Regions from separate parts of the Homo sapiens genome. Here region 1 is linked to region 2. The links come from fine-mapping of genetic effects on plasma protein levels. Region 2 holds a variant in brackets. A gene starts in the other region. All regions are shown on their reverse strands.

Region 1 (5,430 bases), not on the chromosome of region 2:
CTGAAAAGACAGGAGGAAGGCATTAAGGAGTATCGCAAACACAAAAAAGACACCCCCTGAGCCCAGAGGTGCACATCCTCTGTTTTCTAAAGTACAGAGGGAGCTTCCCCATTACCTTTAACAGGTGCTGATTTTCTTTGAGGCAAAATGATTCAATGGAATAAATACTGGGAAACGTGTAGGGACTTAAGCCTGGAATCTAGTCCGGCCTGACTTTCTACCGACTACCCAATGGACCTGGGCAGATCAATTTTGCTCCTATAACTTAGTTACTTTGATTCAGAACAACAAACCTTTACTGCATCCTCACTGTGAGACGGGCGGTGTTAACCATCCCAGGTAAACCCTTTAAATTTGGAATAAAAGTGCACCTTAAACTGGAGACACTTTTGTCCCTCCTGTACCTCCTTTGGGGGCCCACCCCTTCCTCCTTGCCTGTCGTCGGGGTTGATAACTGTATCCAGTGAAAATTTGTATTGGAATCCGGAGCATCCACCTCCCTCCACTTGCAGCCTGAGGAATTCTGACCCTTCGGTGATTTCCAAAAGCCTCTGAAATGCAGGAAGGGGGATCAAGAATAGCGGGAAACGGGAGTTAAAGGGCTGAGTGAAGAGCAGTTCCCGCTGCTCCCGCCAATCGCCTGGGTACCGCCGCTCCGCGTCCGGCCTCCTACCTGGACGCAACTGTCTGTGAGGCGGATCTGCCCTTCGCCGGCCTCGGGGCTGGAGGACGACGCCTCCCGACGCGCCTGGGGTCCCAGGGAGGCCGTGAGGAGCCTGCGCGCAAGGGAGGAGGGTGAGCCCGGGAGCAGAAGGGGCACCTTGCAACCCTCGACCTGGAGCGCCTCACGCTAAACCTGGCGACCCCCACCTGGACGGCCTCCCACCAAACCCTCGCATCCCCCACAGGCCTTAGTTTCCCATTTGTCCTAGAGGCGCAGAACCAAACACCCTTTCCAGGTGCCTTTCTAGTCTTGGTACCTGCCCCTCGGCCAGGGAGTGACCGCTCTCTGCGTCGCGGCCGTTAGGGACGACCCCCAGGCGGCAGCCATCTTCCTCCACAAGCTCCGCCCCTCGCGTCTCCCCCGTTTCTCACCCGGGGCCTCGGGAGGCGGAGAGAACGAACAGGAGGCCGGGACTTCACGGAGGCCCCGCCCCCCCAACATGCCTATTGGGTAGTGCGGGAGGAGAAGGTGTCTGATTGGCTAGGAATGCTCCAGACGGCAGCGGCGGGGACGCACCCAGGAAGCCGGAGAGGTGCTCTAAAGGGAAGGAACGGGGCGGGGAGGAGTGAGGCGGGGCGGGGCGGAGGTGGGTCCGGGCGGGTCAGGCCTCTGAGGGGATGGCATGGGCGGAGACTGCAGGCTTCTGGGCCTGAGAGGGCTGGAGCTGGCTTTCCGGAGCCGGGGGCGGGGCGCGGGCGGGCCTCAGCTGTGGTTACTGGTGACAGGTCGCCTGACTGGGCTCCTCCCCGGGCCCGCCCCGACAGGTTTGTCTTGTGACCGCGGGCGGCCGCTGCTTCTTTCCCGAGCTTGGAACTTCGTTATCCGCGATGCGTTTCCTGGCAGCTACATTCCTGCTCCTGGCGCTCAGCACCGCTGCCCAGGCCGAACCGGTGCAGTTCAAGGACTGCGGTGAGCCCCAGGCCCGCCCAAGGTTCCCGCGCCCTCTGTGGAAGGCCCCGCCGGACCCCCGCGCTGAGACCCCTGGGGCTGGGCTGGGCGGATCCCTCGGGCGGCCAGGCTGAGCCTTGGACCCTACCTAACTGGAATGGGCTGGGTCGGGGGAGAAGGCGCCGGCCTCCATGAAACCCGACCGCGCACAACTTTGTTTCTTTCCTTAGAACGCGTGTTTTGGGGTTCCTGGGAACTCCAGGAGGTGGGCCTTTTGCTGAAGTTTCCTAAAGTTTGTAGGGCGGACAACAGAAGGGCTGTATCCAGCTCTGGTGGAGGGGTGGAGCACAGAACTTCTTTTTATTTATGCTTTGTATCTTGGAATCCCGCCTCCCCCTTCCAACTCCTTTTGCTTTTCTTTTAATTTCGTTTTTGCTGACAAGTCAAAAGTCAATTCCCCTTTTTCATCATTTATTGTTACAAATAGGACTTCCTTTGGGCTTTGGAATCTTGTGATTCTTAATCAGTTTTTCCTTGTATAAATCTCATTGTGTCTCTAATCACAGCTTGTGATACATAACTCCCTCTCGCCGCTGTGGTTGGAATCTTTGTTGGAAAATACAACAGGTGGTAGAAATTCTGAGTGCCTTCATTGAGTCGAGTCTATAGAATTGTCGGAACAGAAACTCGAGCAATGTTGTTCAGAGGTGGAGATAGAGAGATAGAACTGTCAATGAAAGAGGCATGAAACTGACTTTGTAAGATCTATGAGTGGAAAGGAAGCACGGAGATCGTATAATCAATCATTGAATTCCAGGGATGTTGGGTAGCCTACCTAAAGTCACGCAGCAGAATGGGGAGCCAGAGTAAGTGTAACCGCCCAAGGGGTTCACCTTGCGCATTGCCTAGACAGAGCGGATTTATCAAGATGGGATTTGCAGTGGCGAAAAGAGTAATTCACGCAGAGCCGGCTGTGGGGGAGGCCGGAGTTTTATTGTTACTCAGATCAGTCTCCCCGAGCATTCGGGGATCAGAGTTTTTAAGGATAATTTGGCGGGTATGGGCTTGGAAAGTGGGGAGTGCTGATTGGTCAGGTTGAAGATAAAATCATAGGAGAGTCGAAGTGAGTTCTTCTTGCTGACCTCTGGGTGGTGTCATTTGCTGCATCGGAATGCAGGATCTGCAAAATATCTCAAGCACTGACCTTAGGTTTTACAATAGTGATATCATTACCAGGAGCAATTTGGGGAGGTTCAGACTCTTACAGCCAGAGGCGGCGTGGCCCCTAAACTCGTAGCTAATTTGTTAGTCCTACAAAGGCAGACCGGTCCCCAGGCAAGAAGGGGTTTTTCAGGAAAGGGCTATTATCCATTTCGTTTCAGAGTTTAAACTATAAATTCCTCTCCAAGACTAGTTCAGCCTACACCCAGGAATGAACAAAGACAGTTTAGAGGTTAGAAGGAAGATGGGTAGGTGAGTCCTGATCTCTTTCACTGTCTTAATTTCCTCAGGATTTTTGCAAAGGCGGTTTCATAAGTTTGCTGCTTTATATCCAGTGCCCAGGTAATAGTAACTGCTCAATGAAATGTGTTGAAAACATAGATGGAAATCTTTTTCCCCTATGTCATAAAAATTCATGTTGAGACAAAAGCAAAGTTGGGGATTAGGGGACAGGATTGATTAAGGAATGGAGTGCTGGCCGATTAACACTTAAATGCTATTCCATTGATTTAGGAGACTGGCACTTGAAAGCTATTATCGCTTCAAATTACTGCCTTTCCCTCCATTAAACTTAGTAGCCAGCGTTTGGATGAAGACACTATTAATTTTAATAACTCATTCCGGCCAGGCACAGTGGCTCACACCTGTAATCCCAGCACTTTGGGAGGCCAAGACGGGCAGATCACGAGGTCAAGAGATTGAGACCATCCTGGCCAACATGGTGAAACCCCATCTCTACTAAAAATACAAAAATTAGCTGGGCATGGTAGTGTGCACCTGTAGTCCCAGCTACTCGGGAGGCTGAGGCAGGAGAATCGCTTGAACCCGGGAGGTGGAGGTTACAGTGAGCCAAGATCACGCCACTGCACTCCAGCCTGGCGACAGAGCAAGACTCCGTCTCAAAAAAATAAAATAAAATAAAATAACTCATTCCATCCTCACAAGCTGTCTTACAGATGAGGAAAGCGAAGCACATAGAGTAACTTGCCCAAGATCTCACACCCAGTAAGTGGTAGGAAACCGTGGGTCTTTGTGAGCCACTTTGGGTTTCCAAAAAAAGAAGGGAAATAAATCCAGAAATTATTCTACTTATTTGAAAAAGCAGGAGTACACCTATGGGAAGAAGCTTTTAAAGGGAAGAAGGGTTTCAGTTACAGATTTATAATTTACTTTTGAATTGGGAAATATGATATAAAGACTTCAGTGCCCACATCAAAGATTTTTGTGTTCCACTCTACACCCACCTTCCCTGGCGTGGGATTTCCTCAAGTGAGAAAGTGGACCAAGCAAACTAATTTTGTAATGTTTGCTGGTTAGAACAGAGGAGTTTGTTCTATTGACACTGGAAGTCTAAGAACCTCTTGTCATCAGAAAACTGGATGAAAGAGCTATAAGTACTACCCTTTACTTACTTCCTACTAGATTATGTGACTCAGCCTTGAAAGAAGCAGGTGGAAGCTGGACATTGAAAGCCTTAACATTAGCACTGATTTTCAATAGATTGTTGATTGAAGTTCGGGATTTCTTTTTTCCCTATTCACCAAAAATGGGTTGGAGTGGAAGAGAGTGTTTCTCAAACTGTTTTGGATGCTTAAGAGTGTGTGCAGTTTAAGAACTTTGCAATGATGGAGAAGCAAGCTGAGGGATAAAGGACTGCAAGGTACTATTTACTGACCTAGCTGGAGCAGTGTTGGTCAGTGTGATGATAGTTAAAGAGACTGTTCCACCCAAGGGTAGGTACAGGCAGCAAAGAACATCTACTTAGATTTCTGAGTTCATATCATACTTTTATAGTACTGAGCTAATCTGGTGACTGACTGCATAGCAGATAATGTACTCTCAACCTGCAGTTTGCCTCTGTCTTCATGCATTCCACTTTTGAGACAGAAAGAGTCCATCCTATTGGCTAGAAACATAATTTCTATCCACAAAGTATATTTGAGGTGAGAGGTCCAGTTTTTGTGTCAGAAGGGAACTTGCTAACCTACCCAGGAGCAGCTATTCTAGATTAAACTCATGGACTAAATCCAGATATGATAATAATAGTAAATATATGTATCACTATGTTCCAAACACTTACCTAAGATCTGTATTTGTGTTAGCTCAGCTACACCATTATCTCCAGAGAGGTAAAGTATCTTGCCTTGAGGCTATACAGTAAGTAGCAGAGATAGTGAGATTTCAAACCCAGGCATCCGGCACCAGAGTCTGCCTCTCAGCAATGATGGCTGAATGGCAGAACTTAACTTACCCTGTTACAGGCACTGTTATCAGGCAGTTCACCTGCATTCTCTCCCATTCAACTGCCCAGTCTCTGGGGCAGGAGGAAATGGGATTTTTAAAGGCTTTATTTAAACCTTTTTTGGTCAAGCATTTATTGTATACAAGTACTTTTGTCCTTGGTTAGACTGAGATTAAAATACATACATACACACACAGACACACACACACACACTTATTTTAAGAACGCAGGTTCCCAAAATCGAGTATACATCTGTAGATTGCAGATGTGTGCTTAAAATCAGTTTTTGAAACTACTTAGAAACAACCTGGACAAGTCAGATGAATCCAATTTCTTTTCTTAAATTTTTTAATTT
Region 2 (5,000 bases):
CCACAAGGGAAATGTCAGTAAGTTCCACCACATTTACCCGCACAATGGAAAAAATAAATTTAAAACCCCCAAAGTCCATGGACCTGAAAAAAATAAAAATCTAAAAATTTAGTGGGTCCAGGAAGTTGAAACAGATAGAACTTTTGAATCCAAAAAGGGAATACACAAAATTGAAATATGGAGAAAAAAAAAAGTATCAGAATCTATGAGTGGTATGGTACTCCGAAGAAAGAAACATGAAGCTTTAAATATATTTCTTAATTATGCAAAATGATTTAAAATAAAAGAGCTAAGCATTCAAGTCAAACGAGAAACAGAAAAATGATGTAGAAGTTACTGAGTGGATAAATTAATAAAATTGCAAATAAAAGGTGAAAAGATGAAAAAACAAAACACTAGTTCTTTTGGAAAGACTTTAAAAAGGTAAATAAGTCTTTAGTAAATATAATTAAGAAAAAAGTACACAAGTAAACATCAGGAATTTTAAAAATTTACCTAGAGCTATAGAGTATCAAAAATATGAGAGTAGCATGCTACTTATTAAATATGAATACACAATTAAAATGACAATTTTCTAGGAAAATAGAGATTACCAAAATTGGCCCAAGAAAAAGTAGAAAATCTGAATAGAAAAATAAACTAGATAAAACTGAAAATAAAACTAGAAAAAACCATAATCAAAAGTCCTCCCCGATGATATTCCACCTAAGAGCCTGCCAGGGCCAGATAGTTTTACTGGTGAATTCTACCAAACTTTAAGAAACAGAAAATGTCCATCTTATATACAAACTGTTTCACCACATACAAAAATACTAAAAGCTAACTAGCTCCTTCCACAAAGCAAACATATTATTAATAACAAAATCCATCAAGAACAGCAGAGCAAAAAAACTGTAGCCCAATCTCACTTAAAAACAGAGCTGTAAGCATATTTCATAAAGTATTAGTAAACAGAACTAGATATATTCATGGAAATAAATAAACTTTTACCCTTTTTGTGGTGTTATTTATATATGTGCGTGTGTATATATTATATATAACTATATATTATATATTATATATAATACATATATAATATACACTATAATATATATATAATAAATATGCTTATATAATATATACACAATACATATACTTTATATATATATATATATAAATATATATAATACATGTATGGGTTTTTTTTTCCCATCTGGTTTCTGGCTGCCAACTTCCACAGTCCTAGTATTGGTCTTTTGTTATAATGTTGGGTGTGTCAGGCCTCAGGAAACAATCTCTCCACCTGCCCCTCCTTCCACCTGCCCCAAGGTAGGACTCTCATCTTCCCTGCTTTTGGACTGTGGGTCTTAAGATCCTCCCCAGTGAGGGTCCCACCCTATACCCGGGAGAAGAAATGCTGACCTCCTGAAGCTTCCATAAAAACTGGGTTGGGGGAGCTTCCAAATAGTTGAATGCACGGCAATTCCTGGAGGGTAGTGAGCCAGGGAGGTCACAGAGGCTCCGCACCCCTTCCCCAATACCTCGCCCTAAACATCTCTTCATCCGTATCCCTTGTAATATCCTCATAAACTGCTAATCATCAGTGTTTTCCTGAGTTCTGTAAGTCACTCTAGCAAATTAATCAGACCCAAAGAGGCACTCTGGGAACCCCAAATTGAAGCCAGTTGGTCAGAAGTTCCAGAGGCCCGGACTTGTGACTGGTGTGGGGTGGGGAGCGGTCTCGGGAACTGAGCCCCAAACCTGTGGCATCTGACACTATCTCCAGGTAGACAGGGTCAGGAATTGAATTGGCCAGGGGTCACTGCTTGGTGCCTGGGGAAAAACGACCACACATTTGATTACGGAGGTCTTCTGTGTTGATGACTGTTCATGGAATGAGAGCAAAGGAAAAATATGGTTTGAGTTTTCTTCAAACATCATATATAAAAATTAAACCACAAAAATTGATCCTAGAGTTAAGGAATCAAAGTTAAAACCAAAAAACTTCTAGAGGCAGAGACAGGAGAAAATCTTTGAGACCTTGGGGTAGGCCAGTGGTTCTCAATTGGATGTGATTTTGCCCCCTCCCCTCCAGGGCCTTTGATATGCCTGGAGACATTTTTATTTGTTACCACTGGGGGAGGGGGAGTGGTAGAGTATAGTCTTAGCATCTAGTGAGTAGAGGCCAGGAATGCTGGCTGACATCCTACAATGCCCAGGATAGCCCTCCAAACAAAAAATTACCCAGGTCAAATGTCACTAGTTTTAAGGTTGATTTCTCAAGCTACCAAAAGCACAAACCATAAAAAGTTATAGTCCATCAAATTTTTTTAAATCTGTTCTTCAAAGGATATCACTGAGAAAATTTAAAGGCAAGGCAAAGACTGAAAGAAAACACTCATACCTCACACATATCTAAGAAAGAACTTGTACCCAGAAGACATGAGGAGCTCCTAAAGCTCAATAAGGAGAAGAACCCAAAAACAATTTTTAAGGGGTAAAAGGGACAAAATATGATTTTTAAAGGACACTACAAAAAATACCCAGTCAGTAAGCACATGATAATGGTGAACATCATCCAGGATTCCAATAAATACAAGA[AAAGAT/T]GTTCCTTTCTTGCTCAACATCATGAGTCAGCAGAGAGATGAAAGCTGAAACCACACTGAGATACCATTACAACTCCACTTGAATGGCTAAACCTAACACTGACAGGTGTTGACAAGGATATAGAACTGGAACTCTCATACATCACTGGTGGAAATGCAAAATTGTAATTCGGCATTACAGTCTGGTGGGTCCCATGAAGTCAAACAGCTGCTACGCCCACCTCCTCATACACCATTCATGACCAGTTACAACATTAGCAAGAGCTCTCTGTGGCTAGGACAATCCAAAGAAGAAAAGGAGGAAGAAAAAGAACAGCACCTGCAAAGTGATAAGCTACTCTCTGCCACTAGGCTCAGTTCTAGAGCCTGCTCAGTTCTTTCCCCAATACAATAGTTTATATACCAAGATCAAAATAGGGAAGGGAACATCTCAATTATTTCTCTCAGCCCCATCTTTTAAAAATCCCTCTCTCTATGAAATGCTGACAAAAGACGTGAGGCCCAACGCAGGCATTCATTTCCTGGGAATCTGTCAGGATGCTGTTCTGAGAATTAATCCATGAGATCTAATGTAACCATAATTAACAACCTTAGGCTTCCACATACACTTACTGTTGAAATGCACACACACAAATGGATGTGATCCAGGTTTAACATGTGGCCCAAATTAGGCATATAAGCACTGTTCCTTTGGAAAAATTACAGGGAAAAAAAAATCTCCTTAGAGACAGTAACTAAACCAACCTCAACTCCCAGCTGGCTTCATTATTCTCTTGTCCTCAATATAATAAAAACTTTCTAGCATTTATACCTAAACAATTTGGGGAAAACTTGTCCTGTACAAATTTTGAAGCTCTTAACTACCTTAAATCTAACCATCCCAAAGCATTATTTTATCATTAATGCACACTGCTAAGACCTCACCCATTAAGCATCTTGTTAACACCTAACTAAAGGGTGGAAACTTGCATATTACATATATAATATGACATTTTACAAAGTTTAAAGCATATGGTAATAAGTAAAGCCACTGACAAGCTGAGATCACTTTAGACACTGTTGTTGGTTTTGCATGGCCTGGCCTCTGCTCCTCTCCTCCTGAATGCCCTCTCTTCTTGCTCTACTATTCCCGCCCTCCACTGACCTTCAACACTCCTTCCTGCCCCAGGTCTTTTCTACAGGCCAGTCCCACAGCCTATCACACTAGCCTCAGAAACAAGTTTTCTACTAACTTTGTACTAGCAATATCACCTCCCAAGAAATACCTGCATAAGAATCATTAACTTCTAACTCAGCACTGGGACCACCTGGCAAGTAATCCACTTGACACTTGAAAAATGCTTTGCTGAGTCTCTCCAAAAAAAACCATGCACTTATTTAAAGCGCTGCTTCAAGCCAGATACACTTTGGGAAATGAGCCTTTGTCGTGCCTGCTGTTCAATGCACAACTCAGAGGGCAGGCCCCTCCACGTGCACGGACACAGTTAAAGCTGCTGCTGAAATGGTGCTGTCTCCTTCGTTCCTCCCAATAACTAACTGCACCAGGAACCGCACCCCATCCCAGGAGTGCTCAGAGCCAAAGGTCACCTTGAAGCTTTGCCCCCACAAGGTGCCTCGCAGGCACCCCTGAAGCAGGCCCTCATGTCCCTCTTGTGGGTCTAAGCGACTGCAGATGAAAAATATTCTCTCTAGGTTCTAGAGAGCTGGGCTTGGGAGGAGAGGTAGTTTTCCTGGAAATCCAACTCCATCTTTTAGAGACAATGAGAATTTACGGCTAGGATTCTGTTAAAGCCATATGGTGTCTGGGTGCTCCAAAACCTTTGCAAGGATAATGACTTTCTGGGGGCCATACAATGAACAAGAATACTATCAATGGAAAAACACATTCCACGTATGAAATTACCAATTTACAAACATTTGGAATGTGATCCTTCTGTACATTTGGGACTGCCTCCATGTGACCAAGCAGCAAAAACAAACGGGGACATTTGTAGGACTCGACTTTTCATGCTCACAGTGGAGACCTGGCCGAGTTATTTACATTTCAGCAAACTGATGCCCAGGAACAAAATTAAAATGGAGCTTAACACGTCACACCTTGGTGACACGATAAAATTTTTTGTATCAAATTAAAAAAAAAATCAACTTACATTCCTATTCCTCAACTACATGCTACATTTACGGAAATTTTAGCCAGTTTTATCTCATAAAAGTACAGATGACTGATAACCTCCCCCGCCCCAAGAAAAGTTTTCAAAAAGTATTTAAGGAGAGGTATCAGTTTAAAACAGGAACATAAACCCAGCATGGTGCCTCATGCCTGTAATCCCAACACTTTGGGAGGCTGACGCAGGAAGATTACTTGAGGATAGGAGCTTGAGGCCAGCCTGGGCAACATAGCAAGACGTCATCTCT

Direction of the effects. Alleles are on the strand shown, and positions count from the first base shown. The strength of an association depends on the size of the effect and on how common the allele is.
With allele T in place of AAAGAT in region 2, the plasma level of the protein whose gene starts at base 1,521 in region 1 is lower (moderate association).

The links. PIP is the posterior inclusion probability: the model's chance that the variant is causal. Protein levels are from antibody-based Olink assays in UK Biobank. Linkage for the fine-mapping came from a reference panel and not from the study's own genotypes, which makes the PIPs less certain.
Region 1: NPC2 starts here. The variant in region 2 is fine-mapped to the plasma level of the NPC2 protein (UK Biobank, PIP 0.96).

Annotation. Positions count from the first base shown.
Region 1 is chr14:74,489,396-74,494,825 of GRCh38, reverse strand. It overlaps NPC2 (NPC intracellular cholesterol transporter 2), which reads left to right and starts at 1,521. Exons shown (of 5, transcript NM_006432.5): 1 at 1,521-1,633. The coding sequence starts at 1,552. It overlaps ISCA2 (iron-sulfur cluster assembly 2), which reads right to left and starts at 1,061. Exons shown (of 4, transcript NM_194279.4): 1 at 981-1,061; 2 at 674-776; 3 at 436-551. The coding sequence starts at 1,051. RefSeq lists an enhancer at 979-1,058 and silencers at 1,259-1,538, 1,709-1,768.
Region 2 is chr6:159,971,840-159,976,839 of GRCh38, reverse strand. All of the region lies in intron 1 of IGF2R (insulin like growth factor 2 receptor), which reads right to left. Among named protein-coding and RNA genes, the nearest start is that of IGF2R, 5.3 kb to the right of the region's middle. The variant AAAGAT/T (reference allele first, on the strand shown) is at 2,581.